Homo sapiens: one gene and its partners. The protein of the gene in region 5 purifies or fractionates together with the protein of the main gene of each other region. This does not show direct contact. Each region holds a gene or a part of one and is shown on either strand. Other genes may lie near its edges. The genes, in order: KLHL14, KLK15, PLEKHG7, D2HGDH, CCZ1B, DHFR and THBS3.

Evidence for each region.
Region 1: the proteins of CCZ1B (region 5) and KLHL14 purify together in Homo sapiens (co-immunoprecipitation; one large-scale study listed by IntAct). This does not show direct contact.
Region 2: the proteins of CCZ1B (region 5) and KLK15 purify together in Homo sapiens (co-immunoprecipitation; one large-scale study listed by IntAct). This does not show direct contact.
Region 3: the proteins of CCZ1B (region 5) and PLEKHG7 purify together in Homo sapiens (co-immunoprecipitation; one large-scale study listed by IntAct). This does not show direct contact.
Region 4: the proteins of CCZ1B (region 5) and D2HGDH purify together in Homo sapiens (co-immunoprecipitation; one large-scale study listed by IntAct). This does not show direct contact.
Region 6: the proteins of CCZ1B (region 5) and DHFR purify together in Homo sapiens (co-immunoprecipitation; one large-scale study listed by IntAct). This does not show direct contact.
Region 7: the proteins of CCZ1B (region 5) and THBS3 purify together in Homo sapiens (co-immunoprecipitation; 2 studies listed by IntAct). This does not show direct contact.

Annotation. Positions count from the first base shown.
Region 1 is NC_000018.10:32,766,524-32,770,023, reverse strand, and holds part of KLHL14 (kelch-like protein 14), read left to right. Parts: coding exon 1-379; intron 380-3,500.
Region 2 is NC_000019.10:50,827,682-50,830,574, reverse strand, and holds part of KLK15 (kallikrein-15 isoform 4 preproprotein), read left to right. Parts: intron 1-10; exon of another isoform or gene 11-45; intron 46-2,759; coding exon 2,760-2,893. UniProt on the Homo sapiens protein: Protease whose physiological substrate is not yet known.
Region 3 is NC_000012.12:92,758,489-92,761,988, reverse strand, and holds part of PLEKHG7 (pleckstrin homology domain-containing family G member 7), read right to left. Parts: intron 238-3,500; coding exon 158-237; intron 1-157.
Region 4 is NC_000002.12:241,741,130-241,744,629, forward strand, and holds part of D2HGDH (D-2-hydroxyglutarate dehydrogenase, mitochondrial isoform 1 precursor), read left to right. Parts: intron 1-1,305; coding exon 1,306-1,445; intron 1,446-2,492; coding exon 2,493-2,686; intron 2,687-3,500.
Region 5 is NC_000007.14:6,805,776-6,809,275, reverse strand, and holds part of CCZ1B (vacuolar fusion protein CCZ1 homolog B), read left to right. Parts: intron 1-3,238; coding exon 3,239-3,272; intron 3,273-3,500.
Region 6 is NC_000005.10:80,652,184-80,656,413, reverse strand, and holds the start of DHFR (dihydrofolate reductase), read left to right. Parts: upstream 1-1,430; 5' UTR 1,431-1,449; coding exon of another isoform or gene 1,450-1,686; 5' UTR 1,687-1,924; coding exon 1,925-2,010; intron 2,011-2,356; coding exon 2,357-2,406; intron 2,407-4,230. Other genes in the region: DNA mismatch repair protein Msh3, read right to left, coding at 1-3, 1,450-1,686.
Region 7 is NC_000001.11:155,197,898-155,201,397, reverse strand, and holds part of THBS3 (thrombospondin-3 isoform 1 precursor), read left to right. Parts: intron 1-193; coding exon 194-304; intron 305-393; coding exon 394-501; intron 502-571; exon of another isoform or gene 572-698; intron 699-787; coding exon 788-947; intron 948-1,086; exon of another isoform or gene 1,087-1,226; intron 1,227-1,284; coding exon 1,285-1,403; coding exon of another isoform or gene 1,404-1,416; intron 1,417-1,541; coding exon 1,542-1,594; exon of another isoform or gene 1,595-1,600; intron 1,601-2,779; exon of another isoform or gene 2,780-2,795; coding exon 2,796-2,989; exon of another isoform or gene 2,990-3,054; intron 3,055-3,136; exon of another isoform or gene 3,137-3,177; coding exon 3,178-3,356; intron 3,357-3,469; coding exon 3,470-3,500. UniProt on the Homo sapiens protein: Adhesive glycoprotein that mediates cell-to-cell and cell-to-matrix interactions. Can bind to fibrinogen, fibronectin, laminin and type V collagen.

The DNA of each region.
Region 1 (3,500 bases), on a different chromosome or scaffold from region 5:
GCAAGATCGCCGCGCTGCACGGCCTGGAGGAGACCAAGAAGCTGGCCAACAAGTACCTGGTGGAGGATGTGCTGCTGCTCAACTTCGAGGAGATGCGCGCCCTGCTGGACTCGCTGCCGCCCCCCGTGGAGTCGGAGCTGGCGCTCTTCCAGATGTCCGTGCTGTGGCTGGAGCACGACCGCGAGACCCGCATGCAGTATGCGCCTGACCTCATGAAGCGCCTCCGCTTCGCCCTCATCCCGGCCCCGGAGCTGGTGGAGCGGGTCCAGTCAGTGGATTTCATGCGAACCGACCCGGTCTGCCAGAAGCTGCTGCTGGACGCCATGAACTACCACCTGATGCCCTTCAGGCAGCACTGCAGGCAGAGCCTGGCCAGCAGGTAGGAGACAACAAAGAGGAGGGCGGGGGAGGGGGGGGTAGAGCCAGAGAGGCCGGAGGGAGGGGAGGGGGCAGGGAGGAGGGAAGAGATGGGTGGCCTGGGCGGGTGGCTCTGGCAGGATGAAAACAAACGCAAACAATTCAGAGTGTGTGAGGAAAGTTGATTTCAGAGTCCCTGAAAGGTCAATAGGGAACTGGCCTAGCAGCATCCCTGAGCGCTCCAAAGCCGAGGTTCTAGATATCCCCAGAGCCGTAAACATGGGAATTGTGGACTCAGACTGAAATTGACAGGCAGATGGGGCCAAAGGCCAGGACAGTTAGAAGTGTAGCTTTGGAAGTCTCTCTAAGCCAGCTCTCCCTACAAATCTTAAGATGGGCTTGCTCAAGAAAAAGGATCCTGTGGTGAGGAATGCCCACCCCACCCCTCCTCAGTTCTGCCTTGGGTGAGCAGAAGAGCCCAGGCGATGCTTGCAAAGGAAGGCTTTCATGGTCTTGCCGTCACACACTCAAGTTGTTTCTTCATGACTGGGATCTGCTCCCTGTCGATGTCAGAACTCCAAAATGCTTTGTCTATTAGGGTCACTATTGGAAATGCTGGTATCATGTGCCCAGGCAAACTTTTCTATGTTGTGGAAAGCCTTTCCTTTTCACTTTTAAAGGAGAGTAAAGCAAGAGATTTCAGGGTGATGGGGTGAATCTTGCCTAGCAACTCCCATTTCTGAGAAGAGTGCACTTGAAAATTGGGATGGAGGAGTGGAGAGGCTTCTAGCTCCAGTTGGTCTGTGTGCCTGCTCACCAGTGACAAAGAAGTTGGAGAGTTGCTGCTGCCTCTGTTGTTGCTAGTTAGAAATGTGGCTGTGTGTGTTGCAAGTAGGATTTCAGGGGAGAGAGAAATGATGCCTTTTAAAAATGCTGCTGAGATAAAAAGGCTGTAGGAATTGACAATCGTGTTTTATTGGCTCCAATTTTAAAACCATTTTTAATGAGCCCTAGCAAAGGGTTTCTTTCTCTTTTTAGAAAAGAGAAACAGTATCCTCTCAGTTTCTCATGATAAAACATCATGATTCCAGATGCCAGGCTACTCCAGCCTAACCACCAAAGTGTTACAAAGTGTAGCAAAGTACATGGTTTGAAAATCTAGCAGGGCATTTTCCCAGTCAGAATGATGTCTAAAGAATGGGGCCCACCTTGTGCAGCCTTATAGAATTAAATGGTGTGTGTGTGTGTGTGTGTGTGTGTGTGTGTGTGTGTGTGTCATTATGTTTCCACCAGACCTAGGTAACTAAAGTTTAAAGAAATGGAAGATACTCTCTACACTTTTTTAGGCAGCTCTTGTGTTAAGGAGAGGCCAACAGGAGGCATGAGAAATCTTGAACTTGTAACAAAACCCTGTAAGTTCATTTTTCTAACATCTGTGGGAGATGAGTTAACGAATCGTGTTGTCAAAAGATGATAATAGGACAATAGAAGAAACAAGAATCCAAATCCCCGTGTGCTTTTAACAGTGAGCACAAGAGGCCAATGAGGAAAAAAACATGAAACGTATTTTTATTTTATTGGAATTTTTCGTTTGTCTAAAGATCCAAATGGCAAACTCAGTGTGATGGGCGATGGGCCTTGGTGATTAATATTCTGTGATTTAAATTTTTGTCACTTTTAAATGACCTACAAGTATACTTCATTTAGCATATATCACACATAGTCAATAATTCAGACAACACAGTTATAGTTCTGAACATACATTTACTCATACTTTTAAAAATATGTATAACACGGTATAAATTCAGAAACCCAGAGGAATAATAAAATTAAGATTTAACTTATTCTAAGAGTAATTTTGGCAGAGGAGCTTTATAAATTTGATCCAGTAAATTTCTGAAGCCCTCAATGCACTTTTATCTAACAGGTATGTCCTAAGGTTCAATGTTAGAAGAGTTGACTTTCAAAATGCAAAATCCATTTCCCACTTTAGTCAAGATTCAGCACACCAGCTAGTGCCTGCTGGCTCTGTCCTGGTGGATGGCTGAGATACCAGGCTGCCTGGCTCCGTGACGACACCCTCCAGCTTCACTGGGCCACATCATTTGAAGGATATGTAGTGGTGTCTGACCACTGAATGCTTACAAGTGTCATGGATGCTGCAAGAATCTGATACTTCTGCAGTAGGAAGAAAACTGTATTTTCTTTTAAAAGAGAAAGATATAGAAAAGCAAATAGTTCATGCGAACCTATCATTGACCTCAAAGTAATATAATTTAGGTTTTATTCCTTTATTAGTAAAGGTAGCATTTTGAATTTTACAGACTAATTACATTATTTTAATTGTAATTCATAGGAAGAATGCCAAAATAACCATGAAGTTCCTAACTTTAAAGTAGACAGAAATGCTGTAAGTTGCAACCAACAATATTAAATCAGCCCATTTATTATAGCATCAGTGTAATATAAAAATGTTCCCTTAGCCTTATGTGTCATTTAACGGGGATAAATGTGTTAACCAATTGTTTTTGAGATTACATCACTTTCATTGAAGACAATTGAATAGAAGGACCTTGTATTTATTACTTTTTATCCACCTGTAGTTTTTAAACTCTAAATATAAAAGAGTTTCTTAAATTCAGAGAAGGAGATGAAAATGTAAAATTGACCAGTCTTTTGGAATAAGTACAAAGTATAAGCAAATAGAATAACTTCAAAAGAGAATTTACTTGTTTAAGAGTATATTATCTATAGAAAGTAGAGATATTAATATAATCATAATTTAAGCATTTTAAAGATTATTAATTTTGAGTTTTCATTAAGCCTAGAAAAGTAAAGGAACCCAAGTATGAAATCTTTATACAAATACTCAAATTAATATAAAATGTTCCCTCTTGTTGCTTGGTTTTTCTAAGTATACCAGTTGCACTTAAATTCATATTCCATTTTACCAAACTTAACATAAGGACAATAAGTAAAATAAGAAACTTGTCACTCTGTATTCAAATACACACATAAGTAATTTAAGATGACAGGATTGACAAAGGATATAAAGTTTCAGTTAGACGGGAAGAATAAGTTTTAGTGATCTATTGCACCAGCAACGTGACCACAGTTAGTAAAAAAGTATTACATATTTCAAA
Region 2 (2,893 bases), on a different chromosome or scaffold from region 5:
ACTCACCTACCTGCCTCGCGCCTGCCTGCTGCGCCCAGCTGGGGCCTCCACCTTCCTCTGGCTTGGACTGGCCAGGTGCAGCCTCGGTGCCCAGCTGTTCAGCCCGTACCCTCCGCCCTTCGGAGGACGACCTCACCCTTCCTTTGTTAAGCCCCTTGTCCACCACATCCGCATTCCCCTGGTCTCACGGGGGCCTTTGGCCCAGTTCCTGACTGTGATGGGGAGAGTGTGGGCATTTGGTCTGGCTGTGCAAATCCTGCCCCTGTGTGGGTGGGAGTGTGCATGGCTTCAACCTTCAGGGGATGCATCCACATTGCCCAGTGGAGAGGGGTCCTGGTCCTGTGACCTTGAATGTCTCTAATCATGTCCTTAAGCATAATGCCATTCTGTGTGTGTGTGTGTGTGTGTGTGTGTACATGCACGTGTGCAGTGGGTATACAAGGCCCTGTATGTTCACATCCTCTCCACATGCATGAGCCAGATCCCCATATGTGAAACCCAATCAGTGACTCCACAGATCTGGCTTGGGGGCTGATCTAGAGATGGATAAATATGTCCTGCCCTGGCTGCCTCTGGCTTCAGCTGCATGTCTTTGACCTTGAATGCCCAGCCCCGTGTCTGGGTGCTGCCCCAGACAGCAAGTCCACATCTGAGTGTTGGCCTTCTGGGTTGGTGTCTGCAGCTCTAACTCTACAAAATGTCTTGTGGGTGAATCACGGTTTTAACCTTGACTTTTTTTTGTTTGTTTGGTTTTTTTTGAGACGGAGTCTCGCTCTGCCGCCCAAGCTGGAGTTCAGTGGTGCAACCTCAGCTCACTGCAACCTCCGCCTCCCAGGTTCAAGCAATTCTGTCTCTGCCTCCCGAGTAGCTAGAATTACAGGCACGCACCACCACGCCCAGCTGATTTTTGTATTTTTATTTATTTATTTATTTATTTTTTAGTAGAGACGGGATTTCACGATGTTGGCCAGGCTGGTCTCAAACTCCTGACCTCAGGTGATCCACCCACCTCGGCCTTGGCCTCCCAAAGTGCTGGGATTACAGGCGTGAGCCACCACACCTGGCCAACCTTGACTATTTATTATAGGTAATTCTGTGCAGATGTCTGACTTATGTTGGCCATCTCCAGGATGGACCTGAACTTTCACACGTATGTCCCTGTGACTAAATCCAGGTGTCATTTGCAAAAAACAACTAATATTATTAAGTAGCTACCAGGGCTAGGTATCACTCACCATACATACACACATGCACACACACACATACACATTCCTACCTCATCCTTACAACAATCTTCATTTTACAGATGAGGAAACAGAGGCACAGACAGGTCGAATAACTTACTCAAAGTTTCACAGCTAGTACATTCGAACCCAGGCTTAAGGACCCATCTTTGTCCAGACCCTGTATGCAAGTGTCTGTGACACTGGATGCCAAGACTCACACTAGAGATGTTGAATTTAGGTCTGAACAATATCCAATTCTGTGTGTGTGTTTGTGTGTGCATGTGTGTGTGTGTATGTATTCATGTCTTAACCATCCATATTCATATACACATATGAACATCTGTGCTGTGATTCTTTTTTTTTTTTTTTTTTTTTTTTTGAGATGGAGTTTCACTCTTGTCACCCAGGCTGGAGTGCAATGGAGCAACCTCCGCTCACTGCAATCTCCGCCTCCCGGGTTCAAGCGATTTTCCTGCCTCAGCCTCCAGAGTAGCTGGGATTACAGGCACCCGCCACCATGCCCAGCTAATTTTTTGTATTTTTGTTAGAGACAGGGTTTCCCCATATTGGCCAGGCTGGTCTCGAACTCCTGACCTCAGGTGATCCACCCGCCTCGGCCTCCCAAAGTGCTGGGATTACAGGCATGAGCCACCGTGCCCAGCCTGTGCTGTGATTCTTGAAGCTGCAACCCATGTGCATGCAAGTGAATTTCAGCTTCCAGTCCTGTCCATAGCTGTACCTAAGTGTGGAAGCTGGATGTGCATGTATGCATGTCCATGACCTTGTATAGCCACATCTGGGACTCATACTGCACACTGAATTTGGCTGACATGTCCAGACTCTGGGGCCAAGGCTGGGTCACACATACTGAGTGGCCACATGCGTTTGACGTCTGTGACAATTTGGTGACCGTGAATGACTGGTTTCAAGTGACCACCTGTCTGAACCTGTATCCAGTGCCCCTGTCTCCACCCCCAACCACAGAGGACTTCTTGCCCTCTGGTCTGTTCCCCTTCCTCTCTCTCCCAGAGTCTTATAGCAAATGGGGTGGGGGCTAGAGTTCTGGAGAAAACAGGCAGCGGTTGTAAATAAACAACAGGGCAGGCGGAGCATGGTGGCTCACACCTGTAATCCCAGCACTTTGGGAGGCTGAGGCGGGCAGAGCATTTGAAGTCAGAAGTTTGAGACTACCCTGGCTAACATGGTGAGACCTCGTCTCTACTAAAAATACAAAAATTAGCCAGGTGTGGTGGCGGGCACCTCAGCTACTCGGGAGGCTGAGGCAGGAGGATCACTTGAACCCAGGAGGCGGAAGTTGCAGTGAGCTGAGATCATGCCACTGCACTCCAGCCTGGGCAAAAGAGTGAGACTCCGTCTCAAAAACAACAACAACAACAAACAAAAACAGGGCAGGGTGTCTTGAGAAGTTAGGGGAAAGGCATAGGCATATAGTAGTTAGGGCAGGGTGCAAGGAAGGTGTAGGAGGCAATGTAAACGTCCCTGTCCTCAGGCATCCTCTACCCCTTCTCTTAGCAGCCCAGGATGGTGACAAGTTGCTGGAAGGTGACGAGTGTGCACCCCACTCCCAGCCATGGCAAGTGGCTCTCTACGAGCGTGGACGCTTTAACTGTGGCGCTTCCCTCATCTCCCCACACTGGGTGCTGTCT
Region 3 (3,500 bases), on a different chromosome or scaffold from region 5:
GACTAAAAAAGCCAATAGTTTATAATGCCTTCATTTTTTAGAGGAAAAGATTCAGCTTAAGAATATTTTATATTTTTACCACAGTTTATTTAGAAATATTTCTAAACTCATTTAGCAAACTTGTTTAGAAACGTACTTTGAAATAGCAGCATTTTACCTTTTTGTTGCACTTAGTTTTCGTAACTAAGAGGAAATCATTGAAGAGAAACAGATAAACATCTAGGAATCTCGTGCTTTCTGAGGAAAAAAAGAGAAGCTGAAATGGGGACCTGAAACTGTTAAGTAGAAGAGTTTTTCTTTCCCTTTCTTTCTTTCTTTCTTTCTTTCTTTCTTTCTTTCTTTCTTTCTTTCTTTCTTTCTTTCTTCTTTCTTTCTTTCTTTTTCTTTCTTTCTTTTCATTCTCTCTTTCCTTCCTTCCTTCCTTCCTTCTTTCTTTCTTTCTCTCTTTTTTTTAATCAATGAATTCCTTAGAAAACAAAACTGGGTGAGTATTACGGCACCCCAGGGGCTCCAATCATGTAGGTCAGAAAGCTGCCTGCCTCAATGTTGAATTGATTTCTTCCTAAAGCAGAGACTTGATGAGAGGCCAAGCTTCCAACATTAAAGACATTGAATTTATGATGCGTCTCATTTGAATCTAAGATAACTCAGATGTTATTTGTAGTGGCTTCAACTCAGCCGAGGGTAAATCTATCAACTGATTGAACTTGCAGCATTTTTGCCTCTAGATTCCTCTGGGTGGTTATTGGCAAAGGCACACATAACCAGAGAAAAGGCATTTTCTCACTGCTATGAATTATGCTATTGTGTCACTCAAATTTCATATGTTGAAGCCCTAAACCACTAGGGTGGCTGCATTTGGAGTAAGAAAGTAATTAGGGTAAAATGAAGTGATAAGGCTGGTGCACTGATCCAGTAGCATTAGTGTTCTTTGAGACACCGGATACCTCCACCCTATCCCCCACTCCTTGTCTTGAAGAGAGCGCTCATCAGGAACTGAATTTGCCATCACCTTGGCCTGGGACTTTTCAGCCTCCAGATTGTAAGACATAAATTTCTGCTGTTTAAGTCAGCCTGTCTGTGATATTTTGTTATGGCGGCCTAGGTTGACAGTCATTAAAACTACTTATTTCTCAAGTTTTAGAAAGTGTCTATAAATGTTTAGATATTCTCCATCTGTTTCATATTTACAAACTTTTCTGATATTAGTTTTAATAGTTACTTAAGGCAAATAGCTTTTCTTTAGTTTTCCCTAAGAAGGGAATAGTAGTAGAAGAGAAACCAAGTATCAGAATAAGGCATCTCCTTCCTTATTTTACTCTATCCCTTAGAAATTAGAAAAAAGGGTTAAATTTAAGTGATTTCAGAGGAAAAGGTTTTTAGAGGGAGATGTGACAAGTGCTTAGAGTAATCATAGGAAAACCCAGTAAATTTTTTTCAGCTTGTTCTATTTAGATTATATATATATATTGTTCTAGAAGTTCTTTCTTATATGTTTTTACCCCTAGAAGATTTAAAGTAGTAGCTAAAACATTTAGGATTCATTTCTATCTCCTCTCATTCTTTAAGTTTAGAGAAAAGATTTTTTCTATATTTGCATAGGGGAGAAATCTGGTATTTTATTCAAATTAAATAGTCCTTGAATAGTTTTTTTAAAAATCATATTAAAAACTTAACTTTTCATAAATCAAGTTGTGGCAAAGACTTCTGGTTGTCCCTTGAAAACCATTCTCCCCTTCTCTTGTAGCAGTAGAATCCCCAAGTTTTAGTGAGTACCCATCCTCAGAGAACAGAGACTACATTTCCTTGCTGCTGAATATGACCAAGGAGCTAAATTCTGACCAATGGAATGTGAGCCAAAGCATGCAACTTCTGAGTCATATTCGTGAAGGGCAGGGCTAAGCTCTCTTGTCTCTGTCTCTCCTTCTCACTGGGTAGAATACAGACATATTGGTGAGTCATCTTGGGCCACACAGAAGAAGGCAGTTCCCTAGATTTGGGAATAAGACAGCAGGAATCTGGATTCCTAATGACTTCATGGAGTGGAGTTGTCATATAGGTTGAGACTTAACAAGAGAGAAATAAACTATCTTTTTTAACCTGTCCGTCTCCAGTGGCTGAATCTATATGCCAACTGATATACAGGGCTAGGAATGGTACAGCACTAGACCTGTGAACAGCCAGCTGAGCCTGCCATAGCAAAATACCACAGACAGGGTGGCTTAAGCAATAGGAATTTATTTCTCACAGTTCTGGAGCCTGGGAAGTAGATCAAGGTGCTGGTCGATTCAGTTCCTGATAAGGGCTTTCTTTTTGGGTTTCTGCATGTGTTCTTACATGGCAAACAGAGAGAGTGAGCTCTCTGATGTCTGCTCTGATTAGGATACTAATCCTATCAGATCAAGGCTCCAGCCTGAGTCCCTCATTTTACCTGCATTTCTTCCTTATTCCAAGTATAGTCATACTGGACATTAAGGCTTCAACATGTGATTTGTGGAAGAACACAATTCAGTCCACAGCAATGGAAGAACACAATTCAGTCCACAGCAACCTTCAAACCTGTAAAATTTGCTATTCCCATCTTCTGCTACTCATGTATGCGTCAGCTCAATGATCATTGTCAAAATGAAATAGTTTTGTTTTCTCCTTCTAATTTCAACTATTTTATTTTGACAAACAGGCAGGGAGCACACCTTCTACGTATTCCAGATGTTATTCTAGATAATGTTACAGACATTATTCTAGAAAGTGGTAATTATTTTATCTACCATTTATTGAGGCCCTAGTTTTCCACCAAGTAAGTTATGAAACAAATTATGAAAATGTGTACCTTCTGGGAATGAGAACATATACTTATTTGATTATAAGAGTACAGTTTTTAAGGCTGGGAGAAATTTGGAAACACAGTATGTGTTAGGTTTCATCACATCATTTTCATCCTCATTGTCATCATCATTATCAGCAGCAGCAATAACATTTATAAAAGAGAATAAGAGAATTTAAATTTTCCCAAAGCCTACAATTGGTGCTAGATCCCCTGACTGTTGGTTCAATGCTTTTTTCATTTAAAATGATGTCCTGTTTCCTCACTTGATCTTAGCCAAAAGACCAAGAAGTGAAATGTCCTGTTTCTTCTAACACTATCACCCTGCCCCATCAAATCTCGATGCTCAACTCTGAGTCCAGTCTCAGGACTTTGCACTTGGCTTGATGCCATGTAGACTACATCATATGGAGTCTCCATCTCTGATGGAATTTGACTAATACAGCATATGCCATTAAACAAGTGCCTGGTGTTAGTGACATTATGTAGTTCATGTCCATACTACCACATTTGACTGTACAAGAAGCATTTTCTGGAAAAGTTGAGTCTGTTTGTAAAGAGTCTTTCTTAGGTGAGCTTCCAACCCATACATCTATGACAGTCACTTTGAACCCATGCGATGCATGAATTCACATCTGACTTAGACTTTCACCCACCAGGAGCTGCTCCTCCAGCT
Region 4 (3,500 bases), on a different chromosome or scaffold from region 5:
GCCTGTGGGTCATTTCCTCATGGAGCCTGTGGGCAGCTGGGGTGACGCGGTGCGAAGCCAGCCGATGACATCTTGGTTTGTGTGTCTCAGTGTTTGTTCTGTGGTTTTTCGGTGCTATCTCAATGCATCTGTGGTGTGTAATCATTTCCCCCCATTTGGCAATGCCCATGCCCATTTCTTGGCACTGTCTGTAACAGCAAAGCTCCTCCCCCATGAACACACTACAGGGTGGCACTGGTCTCCGGGTGTCCATGACTGTGGACAGTGCTTTAGATCATCCTCAGCAGGTGCTTTGGGGCAACGTGCACTTACTCTGTTAAACTCCATCCCTGGGACTTGCTGTCTCCAGGGTTTATTTCATGTGTGGGGCTTGCTGTCTCCAGGGTTTATTTCATGTGTGGGGCTTGCTGCCTCCAGGGTTTATTTCATGTGTGGGGCTTGCTGTCTCCAGGGTTTATTTCATGTGTGGGACTTGCTGTCTCCAGGGTTTATTTCATGTATGGGGCTTGCTGTCTCCAGGGTTTATTTCATGTGTGGGGCTTGCTGTCTCCAGGGTTTATTTCATGTATGGGGCTTGCTGTCTCCAGGGTTTATTTCATGTATGGGGCTTGCTGTCTCCAGGGTTTATTTCATGTGTGGGACTTGCTGTCTCCAGGGTTTATTTCATGTGTGGGGCTTGCTGCCTCCAGGGTTTATTTCATGTGTGGGGCTTGCTGTCTCCAGGGTTTATTTCATGTGTGGGGCTTGCTGTCTCCAGGGTTTATTTCATGTACATGGGCAGATTCCTTTTCCCAGAGCACGGAACTTTGGTTTCTCCAAACCCCTAGCCACTGGGTGTGCTCTAGGCTTTGGGGCTTTGCAAAGGTGCAGGCTGGTTGGGAGGGAGGTATCCTTGGGCACACGTCTGGGGGATAATGGGCCGAGGGTGGGGAGATGCAGGCAGAGGGTGGAAGGCAGTGGGGGCAGTGCGGTCGAGGAACCCTGAGCTGGACCCTCTGTGAGCATGGTGTGAACGGGAAGGATGGGAGCCGGGCGTGTAGGACGTTCTGTCCTTTGAGGGAAGCCTTGTAGGACGTCAGAATCGGGGCCTCCACTTCCGTCTCCCTGTGCACAGCTTTCGGATTGGCCTCTGTCCTTCCTCAGAATCCCTCACATGCGTGGGCTGGGGAGGAGCCCCCGCTGAGGCTGCAGGCAGGGCAGGGTAATCAGGATTTGGAGTCAGGCACTGGTCCTGCGGCGTGTCCTTGGGGATGGTGGCGTAGGGGTGGGGACAGAGCCCCAACGTCCCTCCTGTCCTCATCCCAGGCACTGCCACGAGAGGAACCTGGCCGTGAACCCACAGGGGGGCAACACAGGCATGGTGGGTGGCAGCGTCCCCGTCTTTGACGAGATCATCCTCTCCACTGCCCGCATGAACCGGGTCCTCAGCTTCCACAGCGTGTCTGGTAAGCCTGTGCCACCCGTCGGGGCCCAGGAGTCCCTCCTGGTGCTGGTGGAGTTCTTCCTTGCCAGCGTCTGCAACTGTGGGGTGCTTGGGTGGGTGAATGAGTTAGGGCCGGCGCTGGGGAAAGAACCAGCGTCTGTAGCCTGGCCGCCTAGCCCCACCTCGCCCGGCCCCTCCAGACATGCGTGCTGGTGAGGGCTTGTCATTCTGGTCCCTTCCGACTCCATCCCGCTCTAGAGGTGTGTGAGGTGCAGAGTGGCATGTGTGAGGGGATCCTGACCCAGGGTGCCAGGGCGTGGCAGGCATGAGGGGATCCTGACCCAGGGCGCCAGGGCGTGGCAGGCGTGAGGGGATCCTGACCCAGGGCGCCAGGGCGTGGCAGGCGTGAGGGGATCCTGACCCAGGGCGCCAGAGCGTGGCAGGCATGAGGGGATCCTGACCCAGGGCGCCAGGGCGTGGCAGGCGTGAGGGGATCCTGACCCAGGGCGCCAGGGCGTGGCAGGCGTGAGGGGATCCTGACCCAGGGTGCCAGGGCGTGGCAGGCATGAGGGGATCCTGACCCAGGGCGCCAGGGTCCTGCTCTGGAGCTGGGCCTCTCCCCGCAAGGCCGGGCTCCAGGCCCCGGTCACTCTGTGGTCGGGCGCCTGCACTGTTGGGTGTTGAGCAGCATCCTTGGCCTCCGCCTACAAGGTGCCCATGGCACCCCCAACCCAGGCATTGTCCCACATGCCCAGGGCAGGATCAGCCCCAGCTGAGAATCTTCCCTCTTCTACTCCTTTCCACGAGTGTGTGTGGGGGTGGGAAGTTTTTTCCTCTCTTTTCATGTTACTCATTTTTTTTTTGTGTCACCATAATTATAAAGGTCCTGTGAGGCCCAGATGTTTTCGTCCTTGGGCCAGCGATGTGGGGGTGCCTCTTCTCCTCAGCCCTGGCGCTGAGGCTGATGTTCCTTCTGGGTGGCTTGCCTGTGCAAGATGGGGGTTGGGACTCACCAGCCCGGGGGCCCACTGGAAGCCAAGTGCTGCGGCAGCCTGGTCACTCTCTGCAGGAATTCTGGTTTGCCAGGCGGGCTGCGTCCTGGAGGAGCTGAGCCGGTATGTGGAGGAACGGGACTTCATCATGCCGCTGGACTTAGGAGCCAAGGGCAGCTGCCACATCGGGGGAAACGTGGCAACCAACGCTGGAGGCCTGCGGTTTCTTCGATATGGCTCACTGCATGGGACTGTCCTGGGCCTGGAAGTGGTGAGCTGGGGCAGCTGCTTGGTGCAGAGGTCGCCACGGGGTGTCCTCTCACGGCTCTCATGGGCCCACGTGGTGGCACAGGTGCATGGGGCCCCTCGGGGTGGGAGGTCTTGGTTCCTGGCCCTGGGCCCCTCAAGGATGTGTGGGCTACATACACCCCCATCCTGAGGGAGGCCTGGCCCTGCCCTGTCCTCCCACGAGAGGGTGATTTTGTGTCCACTGCCTCGGGGCCACACAGAGAGGATGCAGTTACAGGGGACACCGCCCCGGCAGTGGTGGGCTTCTGGGAGCCGGGTGTGAAGGAAGGCTCATCCAGGGTCAGCTTCGTGACCTTCTGCTGCCCACTGTTCCTCCAGGGCCCCTCTGTTTACCCGCACCCTCACCAGCCGAGTGTCACAGGCAGAGCTCTCTGTCCTGTTTACCCAAGTGGACGAAGCAAACACAAAACCATGCTTTGGTGCCATCCAGTAAATTATGACGCTTCAGTAGCTTTTTTTTCTGGCCAGCCACTGATTATCTTTATTGTAAATTACTTTTTTGCACTCATGAGCTGTGTAGGCCTCCGACTCACAGTACCAGCACACAGGACTCGGAGAGGCCCACAGCTCGGGAGCTTTGATGCCTTATGGCTGGTGGGTCCAGAGGTGGCTGGGTCCTGGGCTGGGCTCACGCCCTACTCCCAGGGAGCCTCCCCACTGCCCCCGACCCCGGGCGTGCCCCCTGGGCAGTGAGCTGCTGTGTGTGGAGGGTGTCACTCGTACAGGAGGAAAGTCCATCCTTCAGCCTCTTGGCATGACCTCAGGCTGCTGCAGAA
Region 5 (3,500 bases):
TCTCCAAGACCATCCTCACTTCTGACACCCACTGCGAGTTTGGGAGTCCCCGTGACCACCTTTAGGGTAAGAGTTCTCTAGAAGTACTACAGGACTCAGAAAAGGCTTTCTACAGCAGTACCCCCGAGCCAAAGGCCATGTGTTCCAAAACCCCCGGGAGGTGCCTGAAACCGGGGACAGTACCAAACCCTTCACTTGCTGTGTTTTTTCCTGTACATACATGCCTGTGATAATGTTTATAAATTCAGTACAGTAAGCGATTAATAAGGCTGGGCGCAGTGGCTCACACCTGTAATCCCAGCACTTTGGGAGGCCGAGGCAGGCAGATCACTTGAGGCCAGGAACTTGAGACCAGCCTGGCCAGTGTGGTGAAACCCTGCCTCTACTATAGATAGAAAAATTAGCCAGGCATGGTGGCATGCACATGTAATCCAAGTTACTCAGGAGGCTGAGTCAGGAGAATCTCTTGAACCTGGGAGGCGGAGGTTGCAGTGAGCCAAGATCGTGCCACTGCACTCCAGCCTGGACAAGAGTGAGACCCCATCTCAAAACAAGTAATAGTAATCATAATTGGACGATGACACTCTACTGCAATAAAAGTCATGTGAATGCGGTTTGCTTCCCCCTTCCCTCAATATTTTATTATACTGTCCCTCACATAACAGAAACCATGGGAAACAAAACCAGGGGGAAGGAAGAATGGCGGCACTCACAGCTGCGGTTTATTACAGTGGAAGAATACAGGTTAAAATCAGCCCGGGGAAGAGGCGTGTGGGGCAGGGCCCAGGAGCCACCAATGGAAGGACCAGGAGTCCTTCTATTTGCTTTAGGTTGGTTTGGGTTGGTTTGGTTTTTTGGGTTTTTGTTTTGTTTTTTGTTTTTTTTTTTTTTGGTTTTTTGGTTTTTGAGATGGAGTCCCACTCTGGTGTGAGCTTCCGGCTGTCCTCTCCCGTTGGGGTCATGTGGACAGCCCAGTGAGTGTTTCCCCATCGAGGATGTGTGGCTGTGTCTGTGGAGTGTTGACATCCAGGGAAGCTCACCTGAGCCTCGAGATCCAGAGATCTGATTGGGGGTTGGCCACAGAGACACAGCTGGCCCCACATGGCCAGCCTTAGTCTCCAGCCCTCCAGAGGTGGAGCGGGTGCTGTGCGGGCTTGGGTGTAAGGGATATTGGCCTGTAGTTTTGTTTTCTTGTGATATCTTTGGGCAATGCTGGCTTGATAAAATGTGTTGGGAAATGTTCCCTCCTATTTTTTTGGAAGACAGTGAAAAATTGGTGTTAATTCCTCTTTACATGTTTCATAGAATTCACAGTCAAGCTCTCTGCACCTGGGCTTTTCTTTGTGGCAAATTTTAAAGTTAACCATTTATGCCCAGTGTTCCATTATTGGAACACTAAGCTTGTGAGAGTTATTTATATCCTGCTGAAGGTCATTGCCAAGGTCTCATTTTTCACAAAAAAGATTTACAACCTCCAGCATAAATGGGTTAATCTCTGTACTTGTTACAGGTTTATTTTGATTTTGTTTCTTCTTGAGTCAGCTTTGGTAGTTTGTGTCTTTCTAGGAATTTGTCAGCTTCAATTAATTTATTTGATTTGTCGGCACGTGGTTTTTCATGGTATTGTAGGTAAAGCCGGATACTCCTTCGTTTTTCCTGTAAAGTCAGTAGTGATGTCTCCTCTTTCATTCCTGGTTTTAGTAATTTGAGTCTTCTCTCTTTGTTTCTTGTTGTATAGTCTAGCTAAAGGTTCTTCATACTTCTGGAATCTTCACAAGAAAAAGGAAAAGTTTTTCAATGTTGGGTCTTTTCAGAGAACAACTTTTGGTTTCATTTATTATCTCTGTGATTTTTCTCTGTTGAGTTTGTTTCTGCTCTCATGCTTTATTATTTCCTTCCATTTGCTTTAGGTTTGTTTGGGTTTTTTTGTTTTTGTTTTTGTTTTTTTTGAGACGGAGTCCTGCTCTGTCACCCAGGCTGGAGTGCAGTGGCACAGTCTCAGCTCACTGCAACCTCTGCCTCCCAGGTTCACATGATTCTCTTGCCGCAGCCTCCTGAGTAGCTGGGATTATAGGCGCACCACCACGCCCGGCTAATTTTTTTGTACTTTTAGTAGAGATGGGGTTTTGCCATGTTAGCCAGGCTGGTCTCAAACTCCTGACCTCAGGTGATCCGCCCACCTCGGCCTCCCAAAGTGCTGGGCTTACAGGTATGAGCCACCACACCCGGCCCCACTTGCTTTAGGTTTAGTTGACTCCTGTTGTCCAGGATCTTAAGACGAAAGGTCAGGTCACTGATTTGAGATCTTTCTTCTCTTGAGACAGGATCTCGCTCTCGGAAGTGGGAAGAGGTACTGGGGCAGGTGGGAATGTGAGTTCAGGAGCGGAGGCTGTGGCTGGTGGAAGGCGGCCAGCGGAGGAAATAGAATGCTATAAACCATAGAGGAGGAGGGGGAAGGCAGACGAGGGGTCACACCTGTCATGACATGAGCAGGAAGTCAGTACGATGCCCAAAGAGGATACGTTGAAGAGTTAGGATAACGCTGTTGTCTAATGACAGTGTAAAGTGGTTGCCGGGGAGGAGGGTCAGAGAACGAAATCTGTGGCTTTCATCATCAGGCCTGGTGTTCTGCTCAGCCTCTCTTAACCATACATTGCTTTGATAACTTTTAAACATTTTTGGTTATCTGTGGTCCTGGTTGTTGTCGGTTGCTAGGTCTAATGTCATAACTGTAATTACTTGCTATAATAAAGTGAGACAGGATGATATCCATTTGCTGTCTTTGTAAACGTGTGTCAATGGAAATCGTCACAGAATAATGGACAGTTTCTGCCAATTCTCTATTCTCTCTGGACTATACACAGAGAGATTAGAACAGTGAACCCCTAAGTCCCCATCACACAAGTGAATAAGATTCTGGTCTTCGTTGCTTCTCCATGTTGTGTTGTCGGGTTTGCAAGAGCATTTTAAGTCATCACGTCAGTCACGAACACTTCCCTGTGCCTCTCTGATGAGGACATCCGTGGTAACCTCCCCACTGGCGCTGTCACACCTGACAAGGTCAACAGCACTCCCCTCGCATCATGGAATGGGCAGTCTGTGTCCAGATGGCTCTAGTTGACCAAAAAGCAGCTTCTTACAGTTGACTTCTCCCCATTGACTTTGAACAGATTGTTATTATACGAAAGTCTCCTTTTTTCCACCATTTCATAACCTCTGGTTTGTTCTGTCTTCCCAGGCCATGAGTGCGGCTGTGTGCTTTATGATCGACGGTGGGTACGCGCCTTTGTCTGATTTCAGCCTAAGCTTTTTGTACTTTGCTGCATCCTATTCTTAAGTGATAAATATGTTTTGGGGGTTTCGGTTGTTTGGGGTTTTTTTGTTGGAGACGGGGTTTCACTCTTGGAGTGCAGTGGCATGATCATAGCTCACTGTAGCCTCGACCTCCTGGGTTCAAGTGATCTTCCCACCTTGGCCTCCTAAGTCGCTGGGACTGCCAG
Region 6 (4,230 bases), on a different chromosome or scaffold from region 5:
AGCCTATATCGGGAAGGTTAGAAAATGATGTGTTATCTCTACTCTGAGAAGGCCTGACGTATGTGAAGCAATTTAAACCTTACAACTGAATGACAAGGTTCCTTGCCATCCACTCTTCAAAGAATCCTCTACTTTTAGCTCTGGAAAACCCTATGGGTGAACTGTTTTTAACACCATAAAAGACAAGGTAGAGTCTGATAGTCAGGAGCCTCAGCAACTCAAGCCGTGTTTAGAATTAATTGAAACCAAGGCTGCTACCGGTCTTGATTCAATGAGCCTTCAGCTTTCTCTAATTATAAAACTTGAATCACCCTACTTACATATGCTAAATAAAATACCTCTAAGAAATAAACAGTTATGTAGCAAAGGCACAGAGGGGAAAAGATAGGTAATAAAAGAACAGTATCATTTTTGACATGTTCACTGCAATTTAAGTGTTTCCTGTTTAAAAGGTTTATGTTCATCACTAAAGATGTGACAAGATTATGAATTTTTTCTTGGCAGAAAACTTGCCAAAAGCATACATAAGTCCTTCACCAGCTACCCTTTAAATGGTGGGTGCAAAATTTTGGTGAATTCATGAAAACGTAGCTCGTCCTCAAAAAAAACAGAAGAGGAGTAATCATTTTAAGGGAGAAATATATACGAAAGGAACAAGATTTTGAAGCACCCAAGCTGCCACCTACATTAAAACACGGTAGGTGGCTAAACACCAGTCTTCAATGCCCTTCCACAGCCTCAATCTGAAAAATACTGTGCAGGTGACCCAAGTGAGGGGTCACCCTTGGGCTTTTCCTGTGGCAGTATCTCTGGTTTAAAAACAAACAAACGTACTTATTGCGTTGAAGGATGGCAACAGGAAGGACTCCATGATTAGTCACATCTATACCATCCTAAGAAACTTTATCCACCCAAACTGTATTTCAGACTTTATAATCTAAACTACAAAAAGAGTTCACTGGGGAACTGCACAATATGACTGCTTTTAACCGTAGTGATTTCAAATATTGAGCCATGCTGTTGCAGTCTTAAAAACTGGAGACCTAAGGGCAGCTTTCTTCTAGTCACCCAATCCAGCACTTTTTTAAAAAATCAGTAAAACTCTTCGACCACCAAGGAAAAAAAAAAAGGATGGAGGTTAAAAGACGCACCCCTTGCCCACAAGCCCCCTCATCAGAATGGGAGTCAGGAGACCTGAGTTCCTGTCTCAGGCCTGCCATTAAAAACCTGCATAACCTTTGCCTATCTCCTCAAACGGAAGTACTAAAACCTCAGCGCTTCACCCAATTTGTAGCCCCGGCTGGGCTCTTCCCACCTTCCCCTTCTTCAGCCCGCCCCTTCCTCCTCCAGCCCTATCATCGGGCGGAGGGTCCCCGCCTCCGCCCGCCTTACCCACAAGCCCCGCCCCCCCAGCCCCGATGGCCCTGCCCAGTCCCAGACAGAACCTACTATGTGCGGCGGCAGCTGGGGCGGGAAGGCGGGAGCTGGGGGCGCTGGGGGCGCTGCGGCCGCTGCGGCCGCTGCAGCCGCTGCAGCGCCAGGGTCCACCTGGTCGGCTGCACCTGTGGAGGAGGAGGTGGATTTCAGGCTTCCCGTAGACTGGAAGAATCGGCTCAAAACCGCTTGCCTCGCAGGGGCTGAGCTGGAGGCAGCGAGGCCGCCCGACGCAGGCTTCCGGCGAGACATGGCAGGGCAAGGATGGCAGCCCGGCGGCAGGGCCTGGCGAGGAGCGCGAGCCCGCGGCCGCAGTTCCCAGGCGTCTGCGGGCGCGAGCACGCCGCGACCCTGCGTGCGCCGGGGCGGGGGGGCGGGGCCTCGCCTGCACAAATGGGGACGAGGGGGGCGGGGCGGCCACAATTTCGCGCCAAACTTGACCGCGCGTTCTGCTGTAACGAGCGGGCTCGGAGGTCCTCCCGCTGCTGTCATGGTTGGTTCGCTAAACTGCATCGTCGCTGTGTCCCAGAACATGGGCATCGGCAAGAACGGGGACCTGCCCTGGCCACCGCTCAGGTATCTGCCGGGCCGGGGCGATGGGACCCAAACGGGCGCAGGCTGCCCACGGTCGGGGTGGCCGACTCCCGGCGAGAGGATGGGGCCAGACTTGCGGTCTGCGCTGGCAGGAAGGGTGGGCCCGACTGGATTCCCCTTTTCTGCTGCGCGGGAGGCCCAGTTGCTGATTTCTGCCCGGATTCTGCTGCCCGGTGAGGTCTTTGCCCTGCGGCGCCCTCGCCCAGGGCAAAGTCCCAGCCCTGGAGAAAACACCTCACCCCTACCCACAGCGCTCCGTTTGTCAGGTGCCTTAGAGCTCGAGCCCAAGGGATAATGTTTCGAGTAACGCTGTTTCTCTAACTTGTAGGAATGAATTCAGATATTTCCAGAGAATGACCACAACCTCTTCAGTAGAAGGTAATGTGGGATTAAGTAGGGTCTTGCTTGATGAAGTTTACCAGTGCAAATGTTAGTTAAATGGAAAGTTTTCCGTGTTAATCTGGGACCTTTTCTCTTATTATGGATCTGTATGATCTGTATGCAGTTCCCAAGGTTCATTTACCATTATTAAAAAATTTTTGTCTTAGAAATTTTATGTATGTCAACGCACGAGCAAATTATCAGGCATGGGGCAGAATTGGCAGCTGGGTGGAGGCTTCGGTGGAGGTGAGCACTCCGAAAGGAAAACAGAGTAGGCCTTTGGAACAGCTGCTGGAAGAGATAAGGCCTGAACAAGGGCAGTGGAGAAGAGAGGGTAAAAATTTTTTAAGGTTACATGACCCTGGATTTTGGAGATCTCGAATTTAAAGGTGATGCACCAGGGATGAACGCTCAGATTTTCAGTTTGAAAGCTGGCGTGACATGTAAAGGAGTGGAGAATAATGTACCATTGTAATGATGAGGCGCCTCTAGGACATCTAGGATAATTTCAGGCGTGGGGATCTAGGTGAATTGAACTGTTGGAGGGAAGGGAATAACCAAGGAAAAGAATGTGGGGGTTGAGAGATGCCCCGTTTAAAACCTAAGAGACCTGGATATTTATGGTTGTAAGAGGAGGCATGGCAGAGGAAATGGAAACAGTAAGAAAGGAGCAGATGCTGCATCTCTTTAATGGGACAGATACAAGGCATTTGGGTTTGACACTTAGGTCACTGGTAGAGATGATGACAAGAGCCCGTAGCTAAAGAATTGATAAAAGCCAGTCTCAAAAATCCCAATATAGTCTGGTAATGTTAATGTTTCTTTGGTTCAGATAGCTGACTCTCAAAGTTATTTTCCTAAGAAACTGAACCAAAAGTGGACGCTATATGTAAAAAGTTTTTATAGAAGTGTTATAAGAGTAGGATAGAGACATAATTAAACATGTTTTAAGGTAATTGAGTGGAACATTAAGCACCTATTTTTAAAAGTATGATTTAATATCAATCTACAAAGTACACAAATATAATACAATTGTATCAGACAGTTGTGACAGCACTGATTAGAGGCTGAACATTATTCTAAGTCTTTAATTCCCACAACAACCCTAGAAGCAGGAACTATTGTTATCTCTATTTTATAGATAAAGTAAACCACAAGGGGTTAACACGTTTTGTCTTGTGGGTGACAAAATGCATTCAACTTGAGCACTTTGACTCAGAATCTTTTTTTTTTTTTTTTTTAAGAGGGAGTCTTGCTCTGTCGCCCAGGCTGGAGTGCAGTGGCGCGATCTCCGCTCACTGCAAGCTCCGCCTCCCGGGTTCACACCATTCTTCTGCCTCAGCCTCCTGAGTAGCTGGGACTACAGACGCCTGCCACCACACCTGGCTAATTTTTTGTATTTTTAGTAGAGACGGGGTTTCACCGTGTTAGCCAGGATGGTCTCGATCTCCTGACCTCGTGATCTGCCCATCTTGGCCTCCCCAGAATCTTTACTATGTCATACACAATTGCAAATGATTAAAACTAAATATTGGATATAAATTGGATAATGCCAAAGGGAAAAATAGTTAGATTTAGGTAATGAGTGATAAGTATGAATTTTGGTAAGACTTTTAAGTTCAGTTTTTTAAAGGAGATCTCTGCCAAACCCCAAAAACAAAGAGCCCTAACATCAGCCTAACCAGATTTCAAATTTCATCTTTTGGCGGTATGCATTTTTAACAGTCACCCCTCAACTAACACATCATCCTCCCTCAACTCACATTCTACTAACCCCATCAATGCAACTCCCTGCCCACCTTACTCAACATATACACCGCT
Region 7 (3,500 bases), on a different chromosome or scaffold from region 5:
TGGAAGGAAAAGGGAGGGTCTGGGGAAAGGAGTAGGGCTATGTTTAGGGCCTGGGTTGGGGGTCTTCATAGGAGAGAGGTGGGCCTGGGCCCAGGAACTGTTTGGTGGGGAGAATAGGACCTGAAGCAGGGAAAATATAGGGAGGAGGGGAGCCAGACCAAACTGCTAGCTCCTACCCTTTGTGTTGCCCTAGTGTAACGTGGGCTGGGCTGGGAATGGGAACGTGTGTGGGACTGACACAGACATCGATGGCTACCCAGACCAAGCACTGCCCTGCATGGACAACAACAAACACTGCAAACAGGTGCAGGGAGCAGGCGGGCAAGGGGGCGTAGTGGGGAGCCCAAGCTGGGTCAGGCCAGAACTCATCCATCCTCTTCCCCTGAACTTTAGGACAACTGCCTTTTGACACCCAACTCTGGGCAGGAAGATGCTGATAATGATGGTGTGGGGGACCAGTGTGATGATGATGCTGATGGGGATGGGATCAAGAATGTTGAGGTGACTCCCAGACTGCCCTGCCCCTTGAAGCTCCTCTCCCCTCCTCCTGTCCTCTCTGTGCCTCACTTACCTCATCTGGCAGCTCTCTAGTAAGGGCCAAATACTCCAAATCAGGGAGGCAAAAACCTCGTGCCCAGGACAAGGAGGCTGGGTGGGTGGGACTGTACTGAGCAGTTTGTCCATCACAAGGGTGTGATCTTAGAAAAGGATACAGAGACAAGGTAGGTGCAAGATGACAAGTGATTTAGGGGAGACCTGACCCTTCCCCTCCCACCCCTCTGCCCAGGACAACTGCCGGCTGTTCCCCAACAAAGACCAGCAGAACTCAGATACAGATTCATTTGGTGATGCCTGTGACAATTGCCCCAACGTTCCCAACAATGACCAGAAGGACACAGATGGCAATGGGGAAGGAGATGCCTGTGACAACGACGTGGATGGGGATGGTGCAGGCCTGGGGCTGAAGGGGTGGCTGGGGGACCTGTGAGAATTTGGATCAGGTGGGGATGAAGCAGGGAAGCTAGGAAGTCTCTGTGAAATAGGGAGGCAGGCTTGTGGACGTTGGCCTGGGTGAGGAGAGATTACCTGCAGCAGATGTCAATAGGAATGTGAGGTAGGGCGTAGTGTTAGGCAGAGTGTGGACTAGAGGGTGAGACAAGAAACAGGCAGATTTCCTGGCCAGTTGTCCTCTGGGTGGGGAGACAAAGTTCGGGACTTTCACCAACCTAGAAGAGAGAATATGGCATGTTCTAGTAACAACCTTGTGCTACCCATGTCTTCTAGGCATCCCCAATGGATTGGACAATTGCCCTAAAGTCCCCAACCCACTACAGACAGACAGGGATGAGGACGGGGTGGGAGATGCTTGCGACAGCTGCCCTGAAATGAGCAATCCTACCCAGGTACAGGGAGATGGTAAGGACAGGGGAGGGATGAGGGTACTGATGGATGAAGCCCCAGCCCTTTGGATGGAAAGTGGTCAGATCACCCTCTTCAGAGTTATCAAGAGGAGATGGTGAGAACAGGTCCCTCTCTCTCAGACAGATGCAGACAGCGACCTGGTGGGGGATGTCTGTGATACTAATGAAGACAGGTAAGGTCTTGGTCAAGAGACGCAAGGTCTTTCTTTTTTTTGTCTTTCTGAGACGGAGTCTTGCTCTGTCACCTAGGCTGGAGTACAGTGGCACGATCTTGGCTCACTGCAACCTCCGTCTCCCAGGGTCAAGTGATTCTCATGCCTCAACCTCCCTGAGTGGCTAGGATTACAGGCATGTGCTACCAAGCCCAGCTAATTCTTGTATTTTCAGTAGAGACAGGGTTTCACCATGTTGGCCAGGCTGGTCTCGAACTCCTTACCTCAGGTGATCCGCCAGCCTCTGCCTCCCAAAGTGCTGTGATTACAGGTGTGAGCCACTGTGCCAGCGAAATGCAAGGTCTTATAGGGGATATTTTACTTTCCTCTAGTATATCCTTTTTTTTTTTTTTTTGAGACGGAGTCTTGCTCTGTCGCCCAGGCTGGAGTACAGTGGCATGATCTCGGCTCACTGCAAGCTCCACCTCCCGAGTTCACGCCATTCTTCTGCCTCAGCCTCCCAAGTAGCTGGGACTACAGGCGCCTGCCACCACGCCCGGCTAATTTTTTGTGTTTTTAGTAGAGACGGGGTTTCACTGTGTTAACCAGGATGGTCTCGATCTCCTGATCTCGTGATTTGCCTGCCTCAGCCTCCCAAAGTGCTGGGATTACAGGCGTGAGCCACCGTGCCCGGCCTCCTTTTTTTTTTTGAGATGGAGTCTTGCTCTGTCACTCAAGCTGGAGTGCAGTGATATCGGCTCACTGCGACCTCCACCTCCAGGGTTCAAGCGATTTTCCTGCCTCAGCCTCCCGAGTAGCTGGGATTACAGGCGCGTGCTACCAAGCTCAGCTAATTTTTGTGTTTTTAGTAGAGACAGGGTTTCATCGTGTTGGCCAGGCTGGTCTCGAACTCCTGACCTCAGGTGATCTGCCCGCCTTGGCCTCCCAAAGTACTGGGAATACAGGCATGAGCCACTGTGCCCAGGCCATAGTATATTCTAAATTCCTTCTATGATTTAGCCTTAATTCTCTATTGCTATTCAGCAGGAATTTATTCTTACAGTCATCCCTCCATTCCTACTGCCAGACCTTCACCTCACCTGGCTGACTGCCAGGGGTCTGATTGTATGGAGAGCAGGCTCCAGAGACTCCCAGGCAGAAGCGAAGGGAAGGACAAGGAGTACCTTTAAATCCTTTATTTGGTACCTGTTCTTCTGATTAGCGATGGGGATGGGCATCAGGACACCAAGGACAACTGCCCACAGCTGCCAAATAGCTCCCAGCTGGACTCTGATAACGATGGACTTGGAGATGAGTGTGATGGGGATGATGACAATGATGGCATCCCAGATTATGTGCCTCCTGGTCCCGATAACTGCCGCCTGGTACCCAATCCCAATCAGAAGGACTCAGATGGTAAGCCTGCGGACCCAGAGCACGTTAGACTGGTGTTGCCTTTGCCCAGGTGGAGGCAGCAAGCCCTGTTGGGAAGTGAGGAAGGGCAAGGTGGGGAAAGATGTCAGGAATGCAGGCCCAACAGATGGTATTGTTGCCTAATGGCAGTGGCCAGGGCCTTCCTGAGCACCCAGCCTCACTCTGCCCAGGCAATGGCGTTGGTGATGTGTGTGAGGATGACTTTGACAATGATGCTGTGGTCGACCCCCTGGATGTGTGTCCTGAAAGTGCAGAGGTAACGCTTACGGATTTTCGGGCCTATCAGACCGTCGTCCTGGATCCTGAGGGTGATGCTCAGATTGACCCAAACTGGGTTGTGCTCAACCAGGTAACTCGGGGCAGTGGGCTGGGCAGGTGCTATCAGACAGGGCTACTGGGACGGGGGGCCTGGGAGGGATAGCACACCTGCATCACAGCTTTTTCTTTACTATACAACCCCAGGGCATGGAAATCGTTCAGACCATGAACAGTG